3 separate regions of the Homo sapiens genome follow, and regions 2 and 3 are each linked to region 1. Evidence: fine-mapped expression QTL. A gene starts in region 1. Each other region holds a variant in brackets. All regions are shown on one strand. Distances are from middle to middle.

Evidence for each region. PIP is the estimated chance that this variant, and not a neighbour inherited with it, causes the effect.
Region 2: its variant is fine-mapped to the expression of FBXO2 in aorta (GTEx, PIP 0.98).
Region 3: its variant is fine-mapped to the expression of FBXO2 in blood mononuclear cells (TOPMed, PIP above 0.99). The same link has a PIP of 0.9 or more in NK cells and whole blood.

The regions. Positions count from the first base shown.
Region 1 is chr1:11,650,202-11,658,201 of GRCh38, forward strand. FBXO2 (F-box protein 2) reads right to left here and starts at 4,228. Exons shown (of 6, transcript NM_012168.6): 1 at 4,118-4,228; 2 at 265-633. The coding sequence starts at 4,139. FBXO44 (F-box protein 44) reads left to right here and starts at 4,676. Exons shown (of 6, transcript NM_033182.7): 1 at 4,676-4,751; 2 at 5,605-5,899. The coding sequence starts at 5,635. RefSeq lists enhancers at 1-239, 240-947, 7,776-8,000 and silencers at 4,178-4,317, 4,558-4,787, 4,838-4,907.
Region 2 is chr1:11,726,397-11,736,096 of GRCh38, forward strand. No RefSeq gene overlaps it. Among named protein-coding and RNA genes, the nearest start is that of AGTRAP, 4.9 kb to the right of the region's middle. RefSeq lists enhancers at 1-803, 5,696-5,785. The variant CTTTT/C (reference allele first, on the strand shown) is at 5,454.
Region 3 is chr1:11,714,541-11,724,789 of GRCh38, forward strand. It overlaps DRAXIN (dorsal inhibitory axon guidance protein), which reads left to right. Exons shown (of 7, transcript NM_198545.4): 6 at 579-668; 7 at 5,044-10,249. The coding sequence ends at 5,156. Among named protein-coding and RNA genes, the nearest start is that of AGTRAP, 16 kb to the right of the region's middle. RefSeq lists an enhancer at 5,204-5,273. The variant T/C (reference allele first, on the strand shown) is at 4,902.

The DNA of each region.
Region 1 (8,000 bases):
GTGGACCAGTGGGCAGTTTCTAAATCTGCCTCCCGGGAGGTATGTCCCCCATCCCGCCCTGCCCCAGCTGGCTGAGGGTGGGAGGACCCGGGAGACCCCAGGGCACAGGTGGCCAGAGAGCTACAGTAATAGACAGCCTTGGGGCTACCCAGTGCTGGCACTGAGCCAGGCGCTTAATCCCATTTCTCCCTCAAAGCCAGGCGGCGCCGTTTCGGCCCATTTCGCAGCAGGGGAAGCTGAGCTCGCCCAGCGAGGGCCTCTCACCTTCCCCACACGGGTTACGCAGAAGGTTGCGGCGCCGCTTGCTCAGGAAGTAGAACTGCTGCCAGTGGTCGCGCTCCTCCTCCACGCCGCCCTCGGGCACCAGCCCCTCCTGCTGGCACTTGAGCAGCCACAGCGGGGCGCCGTCCACCAGCTCCTTCCAGCGCAGGCACACCAGGCGGCAGGCCTGCACCAGCTCGGCGGCCGGCAGTGCGGCCAGCACGCGCAGCAGCAGCGGCTCGGGCAGCTCGTCCAGGTACGCGGCGGCGGCCGCCGCCTCCTCCTCCTGCTGGTCCTCCGGCCGCTCCTCCTCAGCACTCGCCTCCTCTGGCTGCTCCTCCGGGCTTGCCTCCTCGGGCTGGCCCACGCTCTCTGCAGGCAGGGATGGGTGGGAGGCTGTGATTCCTCCACCCTGTACTCCTCCAGGCCCCAGGACTGCAATGTGCCCGTAACCTCCCCCACCCACCGTGGGACAATCCACAGCTGGGGCCGGAGATTCTGTGACTCCATACTGGTGCCCAAGGAGGAGGGCCACAAGGCCACAGACCAACCCCGGATCAGCCCCTAAGTCCAAAGAGGTGCCTCAGAGGCCTATTTCCTCTGCTGGACCAGTAAACCCCACGCCTGGGCAGATGGCAACAAGGATCATATTATTATTATTAATGGCATCCATCTATAGCACTGCACAGTGCTTCACACAGGAACTTCTTTCTTCCTCCCAACCACCCTCTGAGATTCCTGCTCCCCTCACCTCCTCAGGAAGCCTTCCGGGACTTCCCCCTATGACACCCTCTCACAGCCCTTCCTAGCTTTTGTCCTGGGGTGTGATCCTGTGATAAACGCCTGTCTCTGGACCATACGGAGCCTTATAAGGGCCAGAACATGGTCTGGAAAACACACAGCTTCATGCCCTGTGCCTGGCATCTGGCACTTTCCTGGTCTGTTGTCAGGAACTCATGTTTTGGGGGCACTCATCAAGTGTTAGGCACCGTCCAAAGCATTTCAACTTCATTTACTCTTTAAATCCTCATACCACTTCTTTGAGGTTGCTCTTATTGCTGTTCTTATTGCATTGATGAGGAAACTGAGGCACAGAGAGGTGAAACGGCCCAGGATCACACGGCTAATCAGTGGTTGGAGCCTGGATTTGAACCCAGACAGCCTGGCTCCAGAGCCATCTTAAACCACCACAGCCTCCACAGAATAATTCACTGAATTAGTAGGCAGTGTTAGGATTTTGACTTTTTTTTTTTTTTTGATATGGAGTCTCGCTTGCTCTGTCACTGCTCAATCTCAGCTCACTGCAACCTCTGCCTCCCGGGTAGCTGGAAGCTGAGAAGCGATTCTTCTGCCTCAGCCTCCCAAGTACTGGGATGACAGGCATGTGCCACCACGCCTGGCTAATTTTTGTATTTTTAGTAGAGACTGGTTTCACCATGTTGGCATGGCTGGTCTCAAACTCCTGACCTCAGGTGATCCACCCGCCTCAGCCTCCCAAAGTGCTGGGATTAAAGGCGTCAGCCACCACGCCCGGCTGACTTTTCTTTTTAAAGATAGGGTCTCACTCTGTTGCTCAGGCTGACCTCCAACTCCTGGACTCAAGCAATCTTCCTGCCTCGGCCTCCTAAAGTTCTGGGATTACAGTCATGCTCCACTACACCCAGGCCAGGATTTTGACTTTGCAGGTGCAAATGCTCAGGCTCAGGGATGAAGTGACTTGTTGAAGGACACACTGCCAGTATTTAGGGAAGGGGACATGGGACCTGGGGCCTTCAGGGGCTGGAGAACAGAGCCTGGAGACCCAGCTGTCCCCAGCTATTGTGTGACTTGGGGATGAGGAGGGACTTATTAAAAGAAACTCTATCAAGCAAGGAGATGACATAGGGGCTTGGGGAAGGAAACTTTCTCCACCTCCTTTTCCCATCCGTGGCCCTCAGTTTTCTCATCTATAAAATGGGGGTAATCATTGTGCCAGGCCATACAAACAGGACAGACGTCCAAATCCCCTGAGGAAGGGGACAAGGGCATTCTGAATTGTAAGGAGGCAGGCAGATGTCACCGCGGCAGCCGGACTGTCTCTTGCATCCCAGTCGGCTTCAGCTGGGCCATCACAGCCTTGAGTAAGTGGACACCGAGTGCCCAAGATGCCTGGACGAGGGAGAGCCAGTGAGGAGGAGACGGGGCCACTCTGGGTGATCAGGAAGACTACAGCTCTCAGACCTACGGATGGGGAGTTCCCATGGGCTAGGCCCTGGAGAGCCAAGGCGGTGGTGGGAACAGGCCAGGCACTGGGGAAGGGGACAGGTGGCAGGACCCAGACCCAAGTCTCCAGGCCCACCAGCCCCTAACCTCCTCATATGCAGCCTCTCCTCCCTGCCCAACCCACAGTCAGGCCCTTGAGAGCTTTCACAGAGCCCAGAGCACACAGTGAGTCCTCAGTCAATCTTACTGAGTGAACCTCATTGAACACAGCACTTCTCCTTCCTTATTAACATTTTTTTGGCCACATCTTTATGATGTGGGGATTTACACCGGCCCCTTTGGCAAAGAGGAAACTGAGGCCAAAAAAGGCTTAACAGCTTCTCCCAGACCACATCGCAGAACGGCAGGAAGACAGAGGAAAATGCCAGGCCCTGAAGTCACATCACCTGCCCAGGCAGATGCCCACAGCTCTCTGGGGAGCTAGGCCCAGTGTCCTCACCTCTCCAGCCCTCCCTCCGGCCCTGGCCCCATCGGACACCTGATGCTCCCCGAAAGGTGCACCTCACCCAGTCCCCTCTTCTGGCCCCGGGGCCTGGCACTCGAGGCCCCAGATCCAATTACAGCTCCCCCCACCCTCTCTCTTACACACACAACTCCCCACATTGTTGCCGGCGGAAAGTTATCTGGCCCCTGGAAGCTGCCTGCCTGCGAGGCTGACTCACTCACCTGGAGTGGGCCCCAGAGTCCAGGGTATAGCTGATCCCTGGGAAAAAGCAGGAGCCAGTTCTGGAGCCCTACAGAGGGTGTGGCCAGAAGGCCGTGGATTGGGAGCAAGGGCTGCGAGAGCTGGAATTTTCAGGGCTGGAGGCGGGGGAATGGGGGGTGAGGGGGGGCCTGAGCTTTCATCAGTCTGTTTGCCACCGCCTAACCCAAGCAATGCCCATCCCCAGCTGGACCTGATGAGGAAAGAGTGAGGGCTGTCTGCAGGCAGGTCTTGTTTCCATCCTGACTCAGCAGGCAACCCCTGCAGGCCCCGCAGGGAGTTGGAGGGATGGGGGTGAGGGGTCTTGGGTGCCAGAGAGGATGACTGGGCAGCCTGGGAAGGCCCTGAGCACCAGCCAAAGCTGCCCCCAACGCTCCCTCACCGCTAGTCGGGTCCCCACTGGGCATCTCACCACCCCGGGGAGGGGCAGCCCCTCCAGACAAGGGAGCTCAGGAGGAAGGCAGGAATAGGTGAGGCCAGGCCTGGGACCCCAAGGAACCCACGGGGATTCAGACGGCCCAAGGCCCAGAGCTGGAAGAGCTGATGAAAGAAAAGGCTCGCAGCCTCCCTCCCAGACGCATCCCAGGCCCCCGCCAGACAGACCCTCAGGAAGCTGGGAGGCGGGAATGTGGGGGTCCTCTGGTGCTACTTCCTGGCTAAATGGGACCCAGGAGTTCTCTCTCCTTGCCAGTCGCCTCTCAAGGCCTCCCGCCAGACCAAGATAGCAGAGAGACGTGCTCTTTGGAGACCGCCTCTAGGGCTTCGCTGGCGTGAAAGTTTGCCGCGCCAGGTCTCCGGGTCCCCTCGCTCTCTGACGCCCCTCTGTGCAGCGCTCGCCCGCCGACCCCATCTCCCCTCCCCGCCGCAGCGAGCGGTCCAGGCGTCGGCTACCTGGGTCACCGTCTCCGTCCATCGCTGCGGAGGGCGGTCGCGAGAGGAGGAGCCGGAGCGCTGCGGGCTGCGCGAGTCCCGGGGCGGCGAGTCCCGGCGCTGTCCGCGTCTGTGTCGGTCCCGGCGACCGCGCCTCTTAAAGGCCCCCGACCCGACCCGCCCCGCCCCGCCTCTGGCCCCGCGCCCGGCCGCCCCGCAGTCCCAGCAGTCTGCTCGAGGCCCGGGGCTGCGGGTTCCTCAGCGGACCGAGGAGGCTGGGAAAGGTCAGGAGTCGTTTTTTTTCCAACTGGGGAGGGGTCCGATTTGGGGCATCTCGCAGCTCGCTCCTGGGGGACTGCTGGGAGGAGGCGGCTAGGGGAGGCACGGAGAGGCTGGGTCAGGCCGAGGGTGAGGGGCGGGTGGCCCAGGCGGAGTCGGAGTATAGGAGGTGCCTTCCGCCCCACCCCCCACACCAGGTAATTTTCCTACGACGCGGTGGGGGTGCGTCCCTGGCCCAGCGCTGCGCGGGGCGGGGCGCGGGGCGCGGGGGCGGGGCCTGGCGGGCCGGGGCGGGGCCTCGCTTTCCAGGCAAGCGCAGGTCCAGGCGGTGCAGCTTGGGCGGCCCAACGGATCGTGCCGCGGCGGCCGAGCGCAGGTGACCGGCAGGAGGGGGCGCGGGGGGCGCTGGGGAGGGGGCGCGGCTGGGCGGGGGCTGCCGGGAAGGCTCCTGGGTTCCGGGTCGCGCCGCAGTTGCCGAGGGAGGCCTGGCACCGACCAGGCCCAGGCCGCCGAGCTTGCCCGGGCTGCGCTGCGCGGCTGCGAACGGGGGCTGGGGTCGCCATCGATGTACAGGGGTCCGAGCCCAGACTTTGGGGGGCATTTTAAGGCACAGCGTGGGAAGGGGAGGCTGCAGGCGCGCTGGCGGACTTGGGGCTGGCGGAGCCCAGCCGCGGGGCTGGGGGTGGGAGTGGGGGTGGGGAGATAGGAAGGGCCCTTCCCTGTCGCCCACCCTCTTGCCACTCCCACCTAGGCAGGAGATCATGTCCTCTGAGATCTTGAGAAGGTGGCTGGAGCCCTTTGGACCTCCGCGGGAGGCAGTGATAATTAGCCTCCTCCTCCCATCATGTTCTGAGGATGGGAGAGAGGATGGTGACGGCACCGGAGGCCTGGGGTGCTCTGCCCGGCTGCGCATTATATCCCCATTAAAGACTGGCCTACTGAAAAAGGCTGGCCCTGGAATCAAAGAAGATCCGGGCTTCTTCCCCCTCTGCCCTTATTTTTGACCTTGGGCAGTGCCTTCCACCTCTATTGTGAGAGGCCAGAGAAAAAAATCAGAGCTCACCTTTTATTAAAGTACCTGATGTGTCCCAAGCTCCTTGGACCGCCCCAGTGACCCCTGGAGGTAAGGCATCCATTTACAGAGAAGGAAACAGGCTGGGAGAGGCACCATGCTCTCCCGAGATAAATGGCAGAGCAGGGATGAGGCCTGCAGCATAGCTTTTCAACAGCTACAGGAGGGTGTCCAGAAGCCACAAGCCATGGCTGTGGGGAACATCAACGAGCTGCCCGAGAACATCCTGCTGGAGCTGTTCACGCACGTGCCCGCCCGCCAGCTGCTGCTGAACTGCCGCCTGGTCTGCAGCCTCTGGCGGGACCTCATCGACCTCGTGACCCTCTGGAAACGCAAGTGCCTGCGAGAGGGCTTCATCACTGAGGACTGGGACCAGCCCGTGGCCGACTGGAAGATCTTCTACTTCTTACGGAGCCTGCACAGGAACCTCCTGCACAACCCGTGCGCTGAAGGTGGGGTACAGGCCGGGTCTGGCATGCCTCCAGTACACAGTCATGACACCAGGAACATGTATTGAGCACTTAGTATGAGCCGGGTACTTTGGATGGTTTAACACCTTTACTTCTCTCACAGTAACCCAAAGAGGTAGCTACTGTTAGTGCACACATTTTTCAGATGGGCAAACTGAGGCCAAGAGTGGTGTTTCTTATTCTTACTATACTCTTTTTTTTTTTTTTTTTTTTTTGAGACGGAGTTTCACTCTGTCACCCAGGCTGGAGTACAGTGACACAATCTTGGCTCACTGTAACCTCCACCTCCCAAGTTCAGCCTCCCAAGTAGCTGGGATTACAGGCATGTGCCACCACACCTGGCTAATTTTTTTTTTTTTTTTAGATGGAGTCTCGCTCTGTTGCCCAAGCTGGAGTGCAATGGTGCGATCTCGGCTCACTGCAACCTCCACCTCCTGGGTTCAAGCGATTCTCCTGCCTCAGCCTCCCGAGTAGCTGGGATTACCGGTGCCCGCCACCACGCCCAGCTAATTTTTTGTATTTTTAATAGAGACACAGTTTCACCATGTTGGCCAGGCTGGTCTCAAACTCCTGGCCTCAGGTGATCTGCCCGCCTTGGCCTCCCAAAGTGCTGGGATTACACGCATGAGCCACCGCGCCCGGCCTCTTATTCTGCTCTTAAGATTATTTCCCCAGTGACCTTTCCTAGGCGAGGGAATGTTGGCCAACTGAGACTAATTCTGCTCAAGACACAAGGCCAGGAAGTCAGAGCCATATTTTGTTGGCCTAGTTTCTAGGCTCCAGGGTTGGGCCTACTGACATGGTCCCAGAAGGCCAAAGGGGTTTTGCTTGTGGAAGAATGGGAGATCCAGTCGTCTTCTCAGTATGTTACAACAACAGGTAAAGCAAGGCTTCCACTGATCCTTGCTTGCTGTGTTGTTGGGTTGACACTGGGATGGCATGGGAACCTCATTTTCCACAACATGACCAAATTCTGGAGCAAAATGATAATAAAACCACTCCTCCAAGCTGTGCATGAGCCAAATCTGGCTGAGGCATTAATAATTGTTCTAATAATTGTTTTTACATTTTTAAAGTGTTATAAAAAGAAGAAGAAGAAACAACAAAAAACTATACAATAGAGATAGTTTATGGCCCACAATTCCTACAATATTTTCGCACTTTGCCAAAAAAGCTTCCCAGCCCCTATTCTTAACTCCAGTTTACAGAGGAGACAACTGAGGCTCAGAGAGGAAAAGCAACTGGCCTGAGGTCACACAGCTGAGTACTGGTAGAGCTGGGACTAGACCCAGGTCTGTCTGGCCCACATCAGAGCTTTGTCCATCACAGAAGGCAGCTGGGCTGGGTGCAGTGGCTCACACCTGTAATCCCAGCACTTTGGGAGGCCAAGGTGGGTGGATCATCTGAGGTCAGGAGATCGAGACCAGCTTGGCCAACATGGCGAAACACCATCTCTACAAAAAAATACAAACATTAACCAGGTGTGGTGGCATGCACCTGTAATCCCAGCTACTCGGGAGGCTGAAGCAGGAGAATCACTGGAACCCAGGAGGCAGAGGTTACAGTGAGCTGAGATCGAGCCATTGCACTCCAGCCTGGGTGACGAGCGAAACCCTATCTCAAAAAACAAAAACAAAAAAAAAGATTTGTGTTTTTAAGGGGTTATAGGAAAAGAAACAACAACAAAAAAACTATACAATAGAGATAGTATGTGGGCCACAAGTCCTAAAACATTTTGGCACTTTGCCAAAAATGCTTCTCAGCCCCTATTCTTACTCCAGTTTACAGAGGAGACGACCAAGGGTCAGAGAGGAAAAGCAACTGGTCCAAGGTCAGACAACCGAGTACTGGTAGAGCTGGGACTAGACCCAGGTCTGTCTGGCCCACATCAGAGCGTTCTCCATCACAGAAGAGGTCTGGTCATTTCCATCACCATGTGTCTCAGGGCCCCCAGGGAAGTCACCTCCCTGTGCCTGCAACACAGGAAGCACCTAATACGCGGTGGGCACTGTGATCTGCAGCGTCCCACAGCACAGGGCTTGAGGGCAGCCGCCAAGATGCAGGCAGAGGAGTGGGGAGGAAG
Region 2 (9,700 bases), 77 kb after region 1:
GTCCCAGATTTTTATCTCCCTACCCATTTTAGGGTTGGGGCAGCTGAGGTCCGAAAGAGATTCTGAGGTGGGTTGCAGCAGGCCGGTCCCCAGCAGCTTCCTTCCGAGCCAAGGTGGCCGAGTGCAGAGAAGAGCAGAAGCGGGACTCCTGCAAGATAAGAAAGGACAAGGCAGCTCAACAGAAGCCAGGGCTGGGGCAGGGTCAGTTGCCATCTTGGGAAAGGGCATGAACTGGTGAGGGGGTGGCCTGGCTTGGCACCAGGAAGGACATCTCTTATCGTGGTGGCAGTTCCAGCCAGTGCCGCCCAGCTCTGCTGACCAGGGCTTCCTCGGGCAGGCTGTTATGTCTCCCAGTGACCTTGATCCTAAAGCCAAGGTGGGGCCCAGACACCCCTGGGGGCCGTGGTGACCACAGAGATGGGGCGCCCTGAGAGCCTGGTGTCCGTATCTGCAGAGACGTCTCTGCCTAGCCAGGACAGGGAAAATCAGGCTTCCCAAATCCAGGGTTTCCTAAAACATGGGTCCTCGGACCCCCAGCATCAGAATCCTGTGGACGGCAAGCCCAGGTTTCTGAGCCCCACCTGGGCCTCTGACTCAGAATTCCAGGCATGGGCTTGGGAATCTGCACAACTGAAACTCAAGTCTGAGAGCTGCTGCACCAAATCTTCTGAGAACTCACAGTCCTCCCCACACAGCCCCAGGTGGCTGGAGGAGCTCCCACGGGGGATGGTTCTGAGGAGCTGAGCCCAGAAGGCCTGTACCCCTCCAAGAGACTTTGCAAGTCATACCCTCTCTGCCCACTACTCAACTCTGCCATCGTCGTATGAAAGCAGCCATGGATCACACAGAAACAGATGCATGCAAATGAGTGAGCACAGCAGCGTTCCAATAAAACTTTATTTACACAAAAGGGTAGCGGGCCAGATTTGGTCCAGGAGCTGTAGCTTGCTGACCCCAGTCTGTACTACTGACCCCTGGGTCAAAGGTTACAGAAAGGCATGCTGGCCATCTAAAAGCCAAACCCCTCTGTCCTGGGATGTCCACTGGATCCCATTTCTACTAATAAAGGTCAGAACAGTGCTGAGATAAGGGGTTAGGGCAGTCAAGCCCAAGGCCACAGGATGTCAGCTCTCAGTGCCAGCAGCCTGGGTGCAGCCCTTGGTGGAGGGCAGATGGCTGCACTGGGGTGGATCAGTCAGGGTTCTCCAGAGAAACAGAAACAATTGGATATTATTTATATATCTTAAAATATCTATGTATTTATATATCTCATGTGTGTGTGTGTGTGTGTGTGTATACACACAGTCATGTACCATATAAACATTTCAGTCAATGACAGACCACACATACAACAGTGGTCTCATAAGATTGTTTTGTTTTGTTTTTGAGACAGAATCTGGCTTTACGTCTAGGTTGCGCACAGTCATGACACTATGTCTAGTGGCACAATCATGGTTCATTGCAGCCTCAAACTCCTGGGCTCAAATGATCCTCCTGCCTCGGCCTCCGAAGTTTTGTATTATTAATGCAATAATAATTATTGTATTATAAATACAGTAATTAGCCTGGTTAATTATTGTATTTTTTGTAGAGACGGGGTCTCGCTATGTTGCCCAGGCTGGTCTCAAACTCCTGGCCTCAGTGATCCTCTGCCTCAGTCTCCCAAAGTGCTGGGATTACAGGCATGAGCCACCATGCCTGTAATGAGCCACCATGCCATAAGATTCTAATACCATACTTTTACTGTACCTTTTCTATGTCTAGATATGTTTAGATACACAAATACTCATCATTGTGTCACAGTTGTCTGCAGTATTCAGTACAGTAACATACTGTGCAAGTCTGTGGCCCAGGAGCAACAGGCTATCTCAGAGAGCCTAGGTGTGTGGGAGGCTTCACCATCTAGGTTTGTGTGAGTACACACTATGATGTTTGCAGTGTGTAATGCTATGATGTTTGCCCATCAATGAAATTGTCTAATGACACATTTCTCAGAATGTATTCCTGCTGTTAAGCAATGCATGACTGTATATAAAGAGATTTATTTTATGGAATTGGCTCCCATGATTGTAGGGGCTGGCAAGTCTGTAATTAGTAGGACAGGCAGGCAAGCCAGAAACTCAGGCAGGAGTTAATGCTGCAGTCTTGAGGCTGAATTTCTTCTCCCAAGACCTCAGTTTTTGTTCTTAAGGCCTTCAACTGATAGGATGAGGCCCACCACATTCTCAGGGGTACCCTCCTTTCCTTCAAGCCAACTGACTGCAGATGCCCTCACACACACCTACATTCTTTTTTGACTGAAACCTTGGATACTAGAACTTGCCCAAGCTGACACACGAAATTGACCATCATGGAGCTTTCTGGAGCTCAGCTCCCCAGCTCAGATCCCGGTGACTGGACGTGCGACAGAGTTGACCGTGGCGGGTCATGAAGCTCTGGGCTTCCTCACTCTGTTTGGCAGCTTGAGCCTCAGTGTAGCGGTGGCCAACCCTGGTCATGAACATGGACACACATGCTGTGGTGGGCCCAGACCAGTGTCTACCCAGTGTTAGGACATGAAATTGCAATTTGGGGTGGGATGGGGTGGGGAGGGATCGGGTGAGGAGCGATATGAATGGATGCCTGACTGGGTCAGCAAATGACAAAACAGAGCTGCCCCTGTCCCTTCATCACACCTCCCCCAACACACGATGGCATATCCTGAAACTCACACGTTTGCACTGGGGAACCACAGTCAGGAGCCTGGGCTCTGTCCCTGCTGGCGATTAGGCACTGCGGCAAGGGCACAATTGGACGGCGCTATATGCTGTGGTCTTGAACTGGCACTGTGCATCCCGACCTTGACCTGTGTCAGCGCCTGGCACAGAGCAGAATACCTGTGTACAGAGGGAACACCTTCCTCCAGACACAGCCCTGGCCTCCATTGACGGCGTGAGGCGCCCCTCCTCTTGCGTAACTGGGAACTGTTAGACCTTCTTTTGCCAAGCATGAAAATGGAAGCACAAAGGAATTAAGGCCACTTGCCCAAAGTGGTGCTGGAGAGGCCTCCCCCAGGTCTGCCTGACTCCAAAACCTGATCATGTCCATGACCCCGTGTTGCCTCTCAAATACCTGAAGTTTACTGAGCACCTACTAGGAGCTGATCACTGATCTCACCCCTACTCCCACCTCACAGGCACTGTGCCACTCATTTAGGACCCATCGAGGCCGCTGTCAGGCAGGGGGCTGCCAGGACCGAAGTTGGATTCACCTTCAGGCCGGCTTCCCAGAGAGGAAGAGGGCTGGATTCCTTCCAGAGAGCCAGTGGAAGCACCCTCCCCTCCCCCACCCACTTCCTCGTTCTTCTCTTCTCTCTCCCTGTGGCCACTGGCCCCCTGCAAGGAAGATGAGACCTCGAAGAGCCTGCAGCAGAGTCAGACGTGAAAGCCACCGCCAGTGAGGCCTGAAAGCAGTGAAAGCAAACACCAAAGATAAACCCCATGGCAGATAGGCGTCTCGGGCCGTCGGGCTCAGTGACCACAACAGGCCTCATGTGTGTATCTGAGCCATCACTCAGATTCAGCCAGAGCCCTCCAACGCCTCCCTTGGAATTCCAGCAGCATCCACGTGGAAAAATGGGAGAACGAAGAGAGGAGGAGGAAGCAGCCTGAAGTTATGACACAACCAGGACAGGCCATGGGAGGCGGGAGGCAAGCAGCACACATTGAAACTCGCTCCGTGCAGGGCCTGGGCCAGGGGCTGGAGTTGATCTCTGAACAAGATGCTCAGAGTTGAGGAAAGCACGTGAGCATGCACATGCACACACACACACGCACCCACACATACATGCACACGCACACACACGCACCCGCACATGCAGACACCCACACCCACACACATGCACACCCATGCACATGCCCATGCACACCTACACACATGCACACACACACACCACCGCACATGCACACCCATGCACATGCCCATGCACACCTACACACATGCACACACACACACACCTGCACATGTGCGTGCACACGCACACAATAAAATAAGAGGATTGCTGCTGTATGCAGCAGGGGTTGAAGGAAATACCATAGGTCAGAATTTGAGAGTAGCTGAAGTGCCTCTCCTTCCTCTTGGGCAATAGCCTCTTACTTCCGCTTGTGTTCTGGGTGGTTTCTAACACAGCCACAGCTTCCTGGACTCCAACAGGGCACAGGCAATTTCCTTTTCTGCCTTTTCTACAATCACCAAAGGTTCCATAGGGCATTCTGATGGGTTCTCTGAGCACAAGGGTCTCTGGAGGGACAGGGCACTATTGCCACATGTCTGGGAAGGCCTGGCGGGGATCATTCTTAACCGGCAGTAATTTTCATAGGACCCTGATGAGGTGGCAGAGCAGCCGGAACATCAGGCATGATTTCCTGTGTTTTAAAGCTCAAGGAGTATTTATGGAGGCTGGCTGGAGTCCATAAGTGTCAGCAAGGGATGCCGCTGTAAGATTGAATTCTGTGCCATCGGGACAAATCGTTCAGAGTCAGCCCTCATTAGTTTTAAGTAGTCACAGAAACAAATGTCCCCTCTGGCCGGGCACGGTGGCTCACGCTTGTAATCCCAGCACCTTGGGAGGCCAAGGCAGGTGGATCATGAGGTCAGGAGTTTGAGACCAGCCTGGCCAACACAGTAAAACCCCGTCTCTACTAAAAATACAAAAATTAGCCGGGTGTGGTGGCACATGGCTGTAGTCCCAGCTACTTGGGAGGTTGAGGCAGGAGAATTGCTTGAACCCGGCAGGTGCAGGCTGCAGCGAGCCAAGATCGCCCCACTGCACACTAGCCCGGGCGACAGTGTGAGAGTTCATCTCAAGAAAAAAAAAAAAAGCAAAATTAGCTGGGCATGGTGGTGTGAGCCTGTAATACCAGCTACTTGGGAGGCTGAGATGGGAGGATCACTTGAGCCCAGGAGTTGGAGGCTGCAGTGAGCCAAGGTTGCACCACTGTACTCCAGTCTGGGTGACAGAGCACCTAGAGGGCCCTGTCTCAAAAAAAGAAAATAAAATGCATTTAATACACCTAACCTACTGAACATCATAGCTTAGTCTAGCCTACTTTAAACATGCTCAGAACACTTACATTAGCCTACAGTTGTGCAAAATCATGAAAAACAAGCCTATTTCATAATAAAGTGCTGAAAACCCTATGGAATTTATTGAACACTATACTGCAAGTGAAAAACAGAACGGTTATACTGGGGACTGGAAATATGGTTTCTACTGAACGCAGATCGCTTTCGCACTGTTGGAAAGTAGACAAATCATGTCAGACCATTGTAAGTTGGGGAGTGTCTGTACTCACTCAATACATGACCCCAAGCCTTGTGGAATGCCACGTGGGGGTCTATTATGTCCTTCCATAGCCAAGAATAGGTCGTGGCAGGAACTCCGGTTCCTTTGAGGATACCGACAGTTTCACTTT[CTTTT/C]GTTTCTCCGTGCTTCCCACCTCCCCGCATCCCCCCAACCCCACCAGCCTGCCAAGCCCGCCCAGCCAGCTGGGTGTTCTCGTGCTCTCCTCCCTCCGCCTCTGGCCCCAGCTGGTGGAGATGAATACAGTGTCAGTGTCTGAGCCACAGGGACGTTCCACAGGCCCAGCCTTGTGCTGCCTTCCGATCCTTGTCTTCTCCTACTTGCTTCACTCTATCCTTCTCATTTCAGCCCTGGCCGGATTTTTCTGCTGTGTGGTTACACGTCAGGGTCCTGGAGCCAGGCTTCCTGGGTCCCACCGCAGTTCCAGCAGCAATTAGTGCTGTGCCTGCAGCAAGCGGCTTCACTTCTGTTGATTTCAGTTGCCTAAGTGTAAACAGGAATAAGAACAGCGCGTGCCATAGTTCTGTTGTGAGCATTTACTATGAAGAACTTTCTTTTTTTTTTTTTTTTTTTTTGAGACAGGGTCTCGCTCCGTCTCTCAGTCTCTCAGGCTAGAGTGCAATGGCAGGATCTCGGCTCACTGCAATCTCTACCTCCTGGGTTCAAGCGATTCTCATGCCTCAGCCTCCCGAGTAGCTGGGATTATAGGCATGTGCCATCATGCCCGGCTAATTTTTGTATTTTTAATAGAGACAGGGTTTCACCATGTTGGCCAGGCCGTTCTCGAACTCCTGACCTCGGGTGTTCCACCCGCCTTGGCCTCCCAAAGTGCTGGGATTATAGATGTGAGCCACCGTGCCTGGCCCACTATGAAGCCCTTTCACACTGTCTGCCACACGACAACTACTGTTGGGGCTCAGAAAATGTCACCCCAATATCTGGTGCTTTGGCATGCTAAGTACTATGAACTACAGAAGACTGGAGGCCTCAAAAGCAAGGTCTCTGTGACGCCCTCCTGACCTCCTGTCTCCAGCCCCTCCTTCTCCCGTGAGGCAGTCACAGAACAAGAATTCCTCCTTTGGCAGGGGATGAGGTGACTCAAGTCTGTAATCCCAGCACTTTGGGAGGCCGAGGCAGGTGGATCGCTTGAGCCCAGGAGTTTGAGACCGGCCTGGGCAACATGGCAAGCCCTGTCTCTATAAAAAAAAATACAAAAATTAGCCAGTCATGGTGGTAGGTGCTTCTAATCCCAGCTATTCAGGAGGCTGAAGTGGGAGGATCACCTGAGCCCAGGAGGTTGAGGCTGCAGTGAGCCATGATCACACCATTGCACTCCAGCCTGGGTAACAGAGCAAGACCTTGTCTCAAGAAAAAAAAAAAAAAAAATCCTCCTTCTCCAAGGTGGGTCACAGAAACTAGAACCCGTGTCTCCAAAGTAGCCATAAAACCTAGAAAGGTGGCTCTCTCCCTTCTCTCTTTAAAGACCTCATTACAGAGGGGTTCTACCTCATACCCAGGAGGAAGGAATGCTGCATGGAGAGCCCAAGAAGAATCTGGACAAGACTTGTTCATTTTCTTTTTATCCAATTGCATTGCTACAGGGCTGTTCATTCTTCCTTGAAACTAAGCACAAAAATGGACAGATTTCCCAGGGCCTTTGAGTCTTCATCTCTGAAGCCTCCCATGTCACATGAAGCTTTGCTTAACTAAACTTGGTATGCTTTTCTCTTGTTAAGCAGTCTTTTTTTACAGGAGTGTCAGCTGTGACCTTTATGATGGGTGAGGAAAGGTATCACACCCTTCCGCCCCTACAGGGTCCTGTAAATGTCAGTTTAGTAAATGTCAGCTCTAATCCTAGGAGTTGTTTTGCGGTTTTTTTGTTTTTTTTTTGACATGGAATCTCACTCTGTTGCCCAGGCTAGAGTGCAGTGGCAGGATCTCGGCTCACTCCAACCTCCACCTCCCAGGTTCAAGCAATTCTCCTGCCTCAGCCTCCCAAGTAGCTGGGACCACAGGTGCACACCCCCATGCCTGGCTAATTTTTGTATTTTTAGTAGAGACGGGGTTTCATCATGTTGGCCAAAATGATCTCGAACTCCTGACCTCAAGTGATCCACCGGCCTCAGCCTCCCAAAGTGTTAGGATTACAGGCTTGAGCCACCGTGCCCGGCCTGTTTTTCATTTTCTCCTTACAAAGTGATCACAACTTTATTATATACCTAAAGGCTTGGATTAAATCCCTCTAGAATCTGGAGTGTATGGGAAATATTTTTTAGAAGGAAATTGATCAGGCTGCGCACTGTGGCTCACGCCTGAAATCCCAGCACTTTGGGAGGCCGAGGCGGGCAGATCACCTGAGGTCAGGAGTTTGAGACCAGCCTGGCCAACGTGGCAAAACCCTATCGCTACTAAAAATACAAAAATCAGCCGGGCATGTTGGCACCCACCTGTAGTCTCAGCCACTCAGGAGGCTGAGGCAGGAGAATCACTTAAACCCGGGAGACGGAGGTTGCAGTGAGCTGAGATCGCGCCACTGCACTCCAGCCTGGGTGACAGAGCCAGACTCCATCTCAAAAAAAAAAAAGATAATAATAACATAATATTCTAATATTGACTGCTTACTGAGAAATTACTCTCTTCTAAGTACTTTACTAATAACAATAATTAATTACCAATAATGAACTAATAATAATAATAGCAACCAGTCCTAAATCAAACTGGATGTAGCCATTTGGCTGGTCTCTAATTTACCCCTAGACTGGGGGGATCTGTGCCTCCTAAGAGGGCATTAAGTTAGGCCTATGGGCCCTGCAGCCCTGCAAAACTCTCCTCATCCATCCAGAGAAACCCTTTCTTTGCATCTGGAGAGACTATGGGTCTTGGTATTATCTAAGGACTCACCCAGGCAGTTTTGTAGGTTCCCACCTGGTTTCCCCCACCCTAGGAATAAGACCAAGTGCTCAGGTGTACCCTGAAGGTTTCCATACCTAGGTGACACTAAACAAAAGCTGGTGTTCTCTAAAGGAAAGTTGATGTTAGGAAGGGACCTGGAGGTAGAGCGGATTAATGTTCTTGTTGCGGTGGGGGGATGTGGTGGTCAACAATCTTTAAGGGAGGTGCCAGGTGAGGCAGGAGACAGCCCTTTCTTTCCTCATGTACAATTGGGGGAGGAATTTCTTATGGTTTTTCAGCTAGAGTTTTCTAAAACTTTTGGTATGCTGATTAAAGTGGGCTCCCACCAATTTGGCTCCTCAGGTGTTGCTTTTTGTTTGTTTGTTTTTCCCAGACAAGGTCTCACCCTGTCGTCCAGGCTGGAGTGTAGTGGCGTGATCTCGGCTCACTGCAGCCTCCCCGGTTCAAGCAATTCTCGTGCCTCAGCCTCCTGAGTAGCTGGGACTGCAGGTGCACACCACCATGCCCTGCTAATTTTGGTATTTTTAGTAGAGACGGGGTTTCACCATGTTGGCCAGGCTGGTCTCGAACTACTGAGTTCAGGTGATCCACCCTCCTTGGCCTCCCAAAGTGCTGGGATAACAGGGGTGAGCCACTGCGCCCAGCCTCATCTTGTGTTGGTAATAACAATAGCTTGTGTGTCCTGCCCATTTACTAAGTGCCGGGCACTGTTCTCTCCTAGAACAAACCGTAGTTAGACTCCTCTGAGTCCTCATCTTGACTAGGCCTCGGCCTTGGACCTCTGTGTCTTCCTGTCCTTGCTGGGCCTGAGCCTGCATAATAAACCAGTTTCAGCAAGAGTCCTGCTAAGTTAGCAAGAACTCCCCCATCCTTGATGTCTCCTCCTAGGAATCTTCCATTCCTGCTCCCTCATTCTGCTCTGGCTATAAATCCCTCCTTGGTCCTTGTTGTATTCGGTGTTGAGCCCAAACTCTCACTCCATGGCAATAACCCTACAGCAAGTCTTGAACAGTACTGGTTTAACAACAGTCCCAATAACGTTTTCTTTAACAACAGCAGTTAGCTCATTTAATCCTCATAAGGATCATATGAGGTAGGTAGCCTAAATAGCCCATTTACACAGGGAAGTGGGAAGGAGAGAGGGTGCCCCCAAGGATGAGACACAAGCTGTTGCCACATCAGCACTTTGCGCCTGGACGGTCCCCCAGTTGTCCTGGCTGCAGGCAGTCCGAACAGTCCGCTTCCTGGAATATTAGCCAGGCAGGATACGCCCTGGGCGACAGAAACTCCAACTTTCGCCAGCGGCCCCCAAGTACTGCCTGGGCGGTGGCGGGAGTCTGGAGCTTGGCTGAAGGCGCGAGCTGCCGACGCCGTCTCCTAGCAACCAAGCGGCGGTCACGTGACCCGCTCCAGCCCGTTTCACGTGGTCTTGAGCTGCGCTGGGGT
Region 3 (10,249 bases), 65 kb after region 1:
GATCAGTGACCAGAATATTCTACAAAACAGCAACCAAACCAGCAATTAGCATTGTATAAGGCAAACCACCAGCTCCCTGACAGGCTGCTTCATTCCCAAACCATTGTTTTCACCCTGGGCACAAAGAAAAGGCCCGCATTTGGGCCGACTGGACAGTCGCTCTGGGAGCCGGCTCCATGGCAGGTGCCCAGGACTTCAGTTTCCCCATCTGTCAAAAGAGGACATTGGTTTTGGGGATCCTGAGGCCCCTCCCAGCTCTGAGCTGACTCCACACCTGGCAGCCCCCAGCTGTTCTACTGGCTCTGTCTGGGAGGAGACCTCACACCACCTTCGCTCTTCCCATGGTCAATCAGTACCCCATCTGAGGCAGCTGGGGTCTCTGCCACCGACCCTTGGGGGCCTCGGCCATGACATCTCCCTGTGGTTCCACTCAGGAGCCTTGCACACCAGATGGCCCACCCCGCCAGGGCGCGGCCTGCCACAGAGATGATGGATCTCTTGTCCAGTGGGACCGAGTGCAGGGCTGCGGGGAGGGGCGGCTCAGCTTGGCTGACTGCGTGTGCTCTCTGTGTTGGCAGGGACTTGCTGCGACCTGCGGGAGCATCTCTGCACACCCCACAACCGAGGCCTCAACAACAAATGCTTCGATGACTGCATGTGTGTGGAAGGTGGGTCCAGACTCCTTTGCGGGGGGCTACCCATGCTCTGAGAACCACAAAGCCTCCCTTTCTCGAAGCGGCTTCTGCACCGAGTGGGGAACAAGCTTTCCTGGCAGAGGGTGGATCATGGGCCTGCGGCGGGGGTGTAGGTGGGAGAATCCCTCGGGAGCCGAAGACGTGAGCAAGAACAGCTTTATCAGTGCCTTCCCAATCTGTGAACTCATTTAGTCCTGATTCTTGGCATCATTTCTGAGATTTGCTTTTCTCAACTTTTGAAATACAAGCTGGCACAATCTCCCACTATCTGGAAGAGGGAGAAGGGAGGAGACAGGAGCACATCTCTTTAAATTAGATCCAGCCTCAGAAGGCTGCCGCTTTCACACCAGAATTCTATCCCAGAGGAGGCATTGAAGTGTGATAATGGGGTGGGGGTGGGTTTCCCAGCATGTCCCAGGGAAGGATGCACTTGCCCAGCTGCCTCTTCAACTCCTCCGTGCCCCCACCTCGCCTAAGTGTGCTGGGCTCTGTGCTGAGCACTTTTCTACTGAAATCCCCATGACCACCCCTAGAAAGGAGCTATGATGATCCGCACTGTACAAATAAGCCAACTGGGGCACAGAAAGCTTAATGATGCCCAAACTTACACAGCCAGGAAAGTGGGGGGAATAGTTTCAGGTTTTTGTTTTGTTTTGACAGGTTTTACTCTGTCACCCAGGCTGGAGTGCAGCAGTGCAGTTTTGGCTCACTGCAACCTCTGCTTCCCAGGCTTAGGTGATCCTCCCATCCCAGCCCTGCAGGTAGCTCTGACTACAGGCGCATGCCACCAGCCCAGCTAATTTTTGTATTTCTGGTAGAGGCAGAGTTTTGCCATGTTCCCTAGGCTGGTTTCAAACTCCTGACCTCAAGCGATCCACCTGTCTTGGCCTCCCAAAGTTCTGGGATTACAGGCATGAGCCACCACACCCAGCCAGTTTCAATTTTGTATTCTGCAAAGTTTCAAATATATACTAAAGTAGTTAGAATAGTCTAATGAGCGCCCATTTCTCATCACTCTGCTTCAATACCAACTCACGGCCAATCTGTGTCTATCATCTCTCACACACTTTCCTTATTCCGACATGATTTCTAAGCAACTCCTGGGAGCTTACAGGTATTTCACCTGTGAATATTTTAGTGTGTACCTCTGAAAGACAAGTACTCTTTTAAAAACAAAATGCCAAACATGAACGATAATTAATCAGTTCCATCCAATATCAAATCAGCATTCACACATCTCCTGGATGGGGGAATTGGGGCTCAGCCCCTCTGTGGACCTGAGATACATGCCCCGTTTTGCTCATATTAGCCTCAGAGAGTTATCTACCATGATCGTGCCACTGCACTCCGGCCTGGATGATGGAGCGAGACCCTGTCTTAAAAATGATGATAATACATCTTTTTCTTCCCAATTTTTAAAATTGTGGACTTTTAAATTTAATTTAATTATTTTTTGAGACAGGGTTTCACTCTGTCACCCAGGCTGGAGTGCAGTGGCGCAATCCCAGCTCTCTGTAGCTTTAACTCCCGGGCTCAAGGGATCCTCCCGCCTCGGCAATAAAGCTATGTAGTTCTGATTATTCACTCATCTAATCAGTTAAATATTTAGGGAGCACCTACTGCGTATCAGACATTGCTCTGGACACTGGGGGGTTCAGTAGTGAAAAGAACCAGCAAGTTCTGTGCCCATGAATTACATTCTAGTGATATGAGCAGACAACAATCAAATACATAGATAGTATGTCTTTAGAAAATAATAAGGGCTATGGCCGAGCATGGTGGCTCATGCCTGTAATCCTAGCACTTTGGGAGGCCGAGGCAGGAGGATCACTTGAGGTCAGGAGTGAGACCAGCCTGGCCAACATGGTGAAACCCTGTCTCTACTAAAAATACAAAAATTAGATGGGCATGGTGGCACTTGCCTGTAATTCCAGCTACTCGGGAGCCTGAGGCATGAGAATCGCTTGAACCCGGGAGGCAGAGATTGCAGTGAGCCGAGATCCTGCCATTGCACTCCAGCCTGGGTGACTGAGTGAGACTCTGTCTCAAAAAGAAAAAAAAAGTAAGTAATAAGGGCTATAAAGATAATAATATGATAATGAGTCCTACAGTTGTTTTAGAAAGGGTAGACAGAAGTGGGCATTGGAGGCCAGGGGAGTGGTTCATGCCTGTAATCTCAGCACTTTGGGAGGCCAAGGCGGGCAGATCATGAGGTCAGGAGTTTGAGACCAGCCTGACCAACATGGTGAAATCCCATCTCTACTAAAAATACAAAAATTAGCCGGGTGTGGTGACGCGCACCTGTAATCCCAGCTACTCAGGAGGCTGAGGCAGGAGAATCTCTTGAAACCAGGAGGCGGAGGTTGCAGTGAGCTGAGATCGTGCCTCTGCACTCCAGCCTGGGCAACAGAGAGAGACTCCGTCTCAAAAAAAAAAAAAGAAAGGGTAGACAGAAGTGGGCATTGGAGGCCAGGCGGGGTGGTTCATGCCTGTAATCCCAGCATTTTGGGAGGCCAAGGCAGGTGGATCCTTGAGCCCGGAGTTGGAGACCAGCCTTGGCAAGGTAGAGAGACACTGTCTCTACCAAAAATACAAAAAAAAAAAAAAAAATTAGCCGGGTGTGGTGGCGCACACCCATAGTACCAGCTACTTGGGAGGCTGAAGTGGGGAGGATCACTTGAGCCCAGGAGGCAGAGATTGCAGTGAGCCGAGATCTTGCCATGCCACTGCACTCCAGTCCAGGCAACAGAGCAAGACCCTGTCTCAAAAAAAAAAAAAAAAAGGGAGGCCCGGCACGGTGGCTCATGCCTGTAATCCCATCACTTTGGGAGGCGGAGGTGGGCAGATCACTTGAGGCCAGGAGTTCAAGACCAGCCTGGCCAACATGGTGAAACCCCATCTCTGCTAAAAAAAAAAAAAAAAAATACAAAATTAGCTGGGTGTGGTGGCGCATGCCTGTAATCCCAGCTACTCGAGAGGCTGAGGCAGGAGAATCACTTGAACCCAGGAGGCAGAGGTTTCATAAGCCAAGATGGTGCCGCTGCACTCCAGCCTGGGTGACAAGAGCAAAACTCCATCTCAAAAAAAAAAAAAAAAAAAGCAATGGCTCTCCATAGGATGTTTTACAGGGAAGGGCAGAATTTGAGCCACTTAAAAAAAAATTTAATAACCTTTTTCCTTTCCAATTTTCAAGATTATAGACTTTTTAATTGAATTTATCTGTGTATTTTATTTTTTAATTTTTTTGAGACAGAGTCTCACTCTGTTACCCAGGCTGAACTACAGTGGTGCAACCAAGGCGCACTGCAGCCTGGAACTCCTGGGCTCAAAGGATCCTCTCATGTTAGCCCCTCCTTCCTATAGTTGGGACTACAGGTGTATGCCACAATGCCTGGCTAATTTTTACATTTTTTGTAGAGATAGGGTCTCCCTATGTTGCTTAGGCTGGTCTGGAACTACTGGGCTCAAGCGATCCTCCCACCTCAGCCTCTCAAAGTGCTGGGATTACGGGTGTGAGCCACCGTACCCTGTGGACTTTATTTTTAGAGCAGTTTTCTAGAAAAATTTCACAGAATGTGGTTCTCATATACCTGCTTTGCCCCTGCATGCAGTTTCTCCTATTAATAACATCTTGCAATCATGTGGTAGATTTGTTTGTTTGTTTGTTTGTTTGTTTGTTTTCTGAGAGGGAGTCTAGCTCTGTCGCCCCAGCTGGAGTGCAGTGGCATGATCTTGGCTCACTGCAAGCTCCACCTCCCGGGTTCATGTGATTCTCCTGCCTCAGCCTCCCAAGTAACGGGGATTACAGGCACCCACCACCATGCCCGGGTAGTTTTTGTATTTTTTTAAGTAGAGACGGGGTTTCACCATGTTGGCCAGGCTGGTCTCAAACTCCTGACCTCAAGTGATCCACCTGCCTCGGCCTTACAAAGCGCTGGGATTATAGGCGTGAGCCACCGTGCCCGGCCTCTCTTGGTACATTTGTTGCTTGACAAACCAATAGTGATGTATTATTATTACTAACTGAAGTCAACGTAAGTTATAGTTCACTGTGCGGTGCATTCTGTGGGTTTTGACAAATGCATGCCATGTCCCACCATTACGTGTCACACAGAATATGTTCACCGCCCCGACCGCCCTGAGTCTTCTCTGTTCTCCTTCCGTGTTCATTCCTCCCCTCTTCCGGGTTCGTGTCTTTTAAGCTCA[T/C]TGGGGCTGCCGTGAGGAAGCTGGGTTGTAGGGCAGAATAATGAAGGCAGGAGGGAGCTGGCTGGCCCCGAGCGTGCAGGGGAAGGAAGGGGAGGGCACGGGCCCTTCGCGCCTCTGACCCCCCTTGCCTCCACTCGCCCAGGGCTGCGCTGCTATGCCAAATTCCACCGGAACCGCAGGGTTACACGGAGGAAAGGGCGCTGTGTGGAGCCCGAGACGGCCAACGGCGACCAGGGATCCTTCATCAACGTCTAGCGGCCCCGCGGGACTGGGGACTGAGCCCAGGAGGTTTGCACAAGCCGGGCGATTTGTTTGTAACTAGCAGTGGGAGATCAAGTTGGGGAACAGATGGCTGAGGCTGCAGACTCAGGCCCAGGACACTCAACCCCAGGAGGGGAGCCGCTCGGCGAATGAGCTGGGTGGGTGCCCAGGAGCCGGCCCGCAGCACCTGCACACACGAAGTCCGGACCCACGCAGCCTCCATCCCGCGTGTCTTGCTCTCCGCGATGGCAATGCCGAGAGTGCCCTCTACTGTCCGACTCCAGCACTGCAACAGCTTCAAGTTCAAAACCAAGAGGCGTTTTTGAGAGTGGAAAAGAAATTTAAACTTCCCGAAAGAAGGTCCACCATCAGGAGATGAATATGGAACATCTCCTATGTACCAGGCACTGTGCTAAGTGCTGGAATACATTATCTCATTGAATTATCACAACGACCTTTTCAAGTAGGCATTATCACCATGCGACAGGTTGAGGACCGTGAGGCACGCTGGAGTTATTTGACTCGACTTGCCCAGGGTCCCAGGTCAGTGCTCCTCAAACCTGAACATGCTAAGAGTCACCTGGAGGTCCAGTTAAAAATGTACATCTGGCCGGGCGCGGCGGCTCACGCTTGTAATCCCAGCACTTTGGGAGGCCAAGGCGGGTGGCTCACCTGAGGTCAGGAGTTCGAGACCAGCCTGGCCAACATGGGGAAACCCCGTCTCTATTAAAAATACAAAAATTAGGCCAGGCGCGGTGGTGCACACCTGTAATCCCAGCTACTCGGAGGCTGAGGCACCAGAATCGCTTGAACTTGGGAGGCAGAGGTTGCAGTGAGCAGAGATCGTGCCACTGCACTCCAGCCTGGGGGACAAGAGTGAAACTCCATCTCAAAAAAAAAAAAAAAAAAAAGCACATCTGACTCAGTGGGCTCTGTGCTCTAACAAGCTCCCAGGGAACGCGAGGCTGCTGGCCCAGGGACCCACTGAGAGGTCCTGGGAAGTACATGGCAGAGCAAGGACATGAACCTGGGCCAAGGCTGTCCAGCTCCAAGGCCCACGTTCTTGCTGCTCCACAGCCAAGAATTTCTTCCAGATTCTCTAAGGCTTTTGGCAAGAGAGGCTCACACCCTGGTATTCCCTTCCTCTGTGGCTGGAATAACTTGACTGTTCTCTGCCTTCCCTGGATAAAGGTGTATCATGTTTAAAAACAAAACAAAATACAACTTAAGCACATACTTGCTTGCAGGAATAAGTTGGGCAGGTTGATCCCTGTGGTCTAGTAGCTGATATCCTGGGATAAGAAGTGTTTGGGGAAAAGAATCATGTTGGCCTTTATGTCCCTGTGGTCCTGATCATCCAGTCCTGGACAGGCACTTTACAGTTTTCTGGAGCACTTCCCCCCCAGGGGTTCTGATGCAAGCATGGAATCCAAAAAAACCCCACACATATTGCCCATGTTTACCCACTTTGCATACTGTTTAGTGATTTCCAGGACCACAAAACCATCCCTGGAACCCCACCCCACATTTTTGCAGCAGAGCCCACTGGGAAGTTGAGGCTCACCTGAAATTGAGGTGCTATCTGAAGCTAACTGCCCCTAACAGGCCAGACTCACAATGCCCACCCAGGACATCTGTCCCAGCAGATCTGGCTTCAGGGGTCACTTCAGGAGAACCATTTAAATCCCCCCACTTGGCATCTCACTCCTGGCCAACCCTCTGTTCCAGGGCGAACCAGGTTGCAAATGACAAAAGACTTTCCTGGCCAAATTCCTCACTGGCCTGGATCACGCCCATAAGATGCCAGAGATGTTTACTGCGTTGGAAAAATCAGTCGGGGTCAGGGGTCAGGCACCAAGGAAAGCAGGCAGATCTAGAAGAAATTAAATATGCTTGTTCTCTCCCTATCCAAGTTTGATGGGCATGGGAACCTTGTGGGGAGGGAGCAGGGAGGGCAGGGGAACTGGGAGATCAAAGCAGGCTAGCTGAAAGGCAGATATGGCTAGACACAATGGCTCATGCCTGTAATCCCAGCACTTTGGGAGGCTGAGGTGGGCGGACCACCTCAGGTCAGGAGTTTGAGACCAGCCTGGCCAACATGGCAAAACCCGGTCTCTACCAAATATACAAAAATTAAGGCTGGGCACGAGGGCTCATGTCTGACATCCCAGCACTCTGGGAGGCCGAGGTAGGCAGATCACTTGAAGTAAGGCGTTCGAGAACAGCCTGACCAACATGGTGAAACCCCATCTCTACTAAAAATACAAAAATTAGCCAGGCATGGTGGCAGGTGCCTGTAATCCCAGCTACTCAGGAGGCTCAGGCGGGAGAATCACTTGAACCCAGGAGGCGGAGGTTGCGGTGAGCCAAGATCACGCCATTGCACTCCAGCCTGGGCGACAGAGTGAGACTCCAAAAATATAAAACACTTAAAAATGTAAAAAGGCAGATCTGCCAGCAGCTTCGTACTTGAGACCAGACAACCCACACATGCTGTGTGTGCCTCACATTAAGTGGTGACTCGGGACTGTGCTGGCTCTGTGGGGCTAGAACCCTAAGGAGTACCGCCGGAAGAAAGCCCAGCATTACTATGGCTGGGGGACAGCTGTTAGATGGTCCTAGGACATCAGCCATGGAGAACACAGAGGGTCAGGACAAAGCTAAAATGCCCATAGAACTGCCACTGGTTGCCAGGGTAGTTCCATGGTTGGAAATTCAAGGCCCGTCTCTTTGCCCTAGCTATCTCTATTTGACATTTCCAAAGAGGGATGGGTGGATGGAACCTCTTAACTCCAGAGCTGGGAATCCCAAAGCCCTCTCAAGTGTCTAACCAACCTCTCTGCCAGGAAGTTCTTCCTTAGGTCTATCTTAAATTTATTTTGCTCATACAGAAGCCAGTTTCCTCTAATCCAGGGTTTAGCAAACTTTTACTGTGAGGAGCCAAATAAACATTTTAGGATTTGCAAGCCATCTGATCTCCACCAGCTACTCAGCTCTGCCGTAGCTCGAAGCAGCCACAGAGAGTGTGTAAATGAATTCATGGCTATGCTCCAGGAAAACTATTTCTGGACACACATGTGAATTCTGTATACTTTTCACATGTCACAAAATATTATTCTCTCTTTCCTTTTTTTTTTTTTTGGAGATGGAGTTTTGCTCTGCTGCCCAGGCTGGAATGCAGTGGCTCAGTCTCAGCTCACTGCAACCTCTTCATCCCAGGTTCAAGCAATTCTCCTGCCTCAGCCTCCCAAGTAGCTGTGACTACAGGCATGTGCCACCACACCTGGTTAATTTTTGTATTTTTAGTAGAGATAAGGTTTTACCATGTTGGCCAGGCTGGTCTCAAACTTCTGACCTCAGGTGATCCGCCCGCCTCAGCCTCCCAAAATGCTGGGATTACAGGTGTGAGCCACCGCACCTGGCCATAAAATATTATTAGTTTAATTTTCTAAAACCATTTAAAAGTGCAAAAACTGCTCTTTGCTTGCCAACTGCGCAAAACCAGGCAGTGGGGCAGATTTGGCCTGAGGGTCACGGTTTGCCAACCCCTGCTCAAGCCTGCTCACTCTCAACGCTGGCTGCACGTTGCAATAATCCAGGAACATTCACAGGCCTGGGGCCCACCCACAAAGCTTCTGTTTTGTTTGGTCTGGGCTTCATAGTTTTTCTCCCAGGTAACTTCAGGTGCAGCTGGGGCGGAGAGTCTCTGCTCTCCCCTTCCATCTGTAGCAGTGTGGCTGGTGTTAAATCCACCTATTCCACCTCTCACAGCTTTGGCAACCTTAGGAAAGTTTCTTAAGGTCTCTGTGCCTTGATTTTTTCATCTGTAAAATGGGAATAATAACTCTCCCTTCATAGGGTTGTTGTGAGTAGTGAATGCATACTTCTTTTTTTTTTTTTTTCTTTTGAGACAGAGTTTCACTCTTGTTGCCCAGGCTGGAGTGCAGTGGCACGATCTCGGCTCACTGCGACCTCTGCCTCCTGGGTACAAGTGATTCTCCCGCCTCAGCCTCTCGCGTACCTGGGATTATAGGCAAGCATCACCACGCCCGGTTACTGTTTGTATTTTTAGTAGAGATGGGGTTTCACCATGTTGGCCAGGCTGGTCTCAAACTCCTGACCTCAGGTGATCCCCCCGTCTCAGCCTCCCAAAGTGCTGGGATTACAGGCATGAGCCAGCATGCCTGGCCTGTGAACGCAGAATTCTTATAAGGTGTTTAGAACAGTGCCTAGCACCTAATAAACCTCCAGTGTTAGCTAATTTGTTATTCTAGGAGAATTTTAGATGTCGGTTCTTTGACAATGACCCATCACATACTCTGAGATCATTTCTAAGTCACCATTCAAGCTCCTTCCCCAAAGTGTGTTCCATAGAACACTGGGACCATGAGATGCTCTATTAGAAAGGGTCAGGGTACGGTTCCATGGTCAGAGAGGTTTGGAAAACTGTTCTGGCCTCAGCCCTTGGCAGCATGTGCAGATTCCAGGCACCGAGGCAGGGCTGGAGGAGTAAGTGGCTTTGCAATAAAATGGGTGCTGGAGTCTAAAATGATACCCTGGGTGGAGTGGGGGAGCTGAGCAGGAGGCCAGGTGGCAACCAGTAGCTGCTGGGCCCGTGGCCTGAACCCTCCTGCACTCCTCCAGCTGGAGTCTCACCGCGGATCCCAGGAATACCTGCTGTTCCCACAGGGCTGCCTTTCCGTAGTTTGTCTGGAGACACCAAGAGTGGTTTCCATGCCTGCTGGGAATAGGCTGAGCATGCAATGACATGAGGGCCAAGGCTTGTGGGAAAATGACAGCTTCACAGCCCCTTGAGGAGTGACCAAGCCACAAAGTAAATCCTAAAGCCACAACCCCTTCTACCACTGAGCTGCTGGAGGTGGGTCCTTATTTCAAGCCATATTCAACCCACCCAACAAAACCTAACATTGAGGTGGTGGGCACACGGCCCCTGCCGTGGGGCTCACTCTGCAGCTGGAGAGACAGCATACCTGAAACCTGCAAGGAACCGGTTTATAAAACAACAGAACAGCCAGGAAAATGGTGCTAGGAGAGACAGTGGAGAGGCCAGAGAAGCAAACCACTGT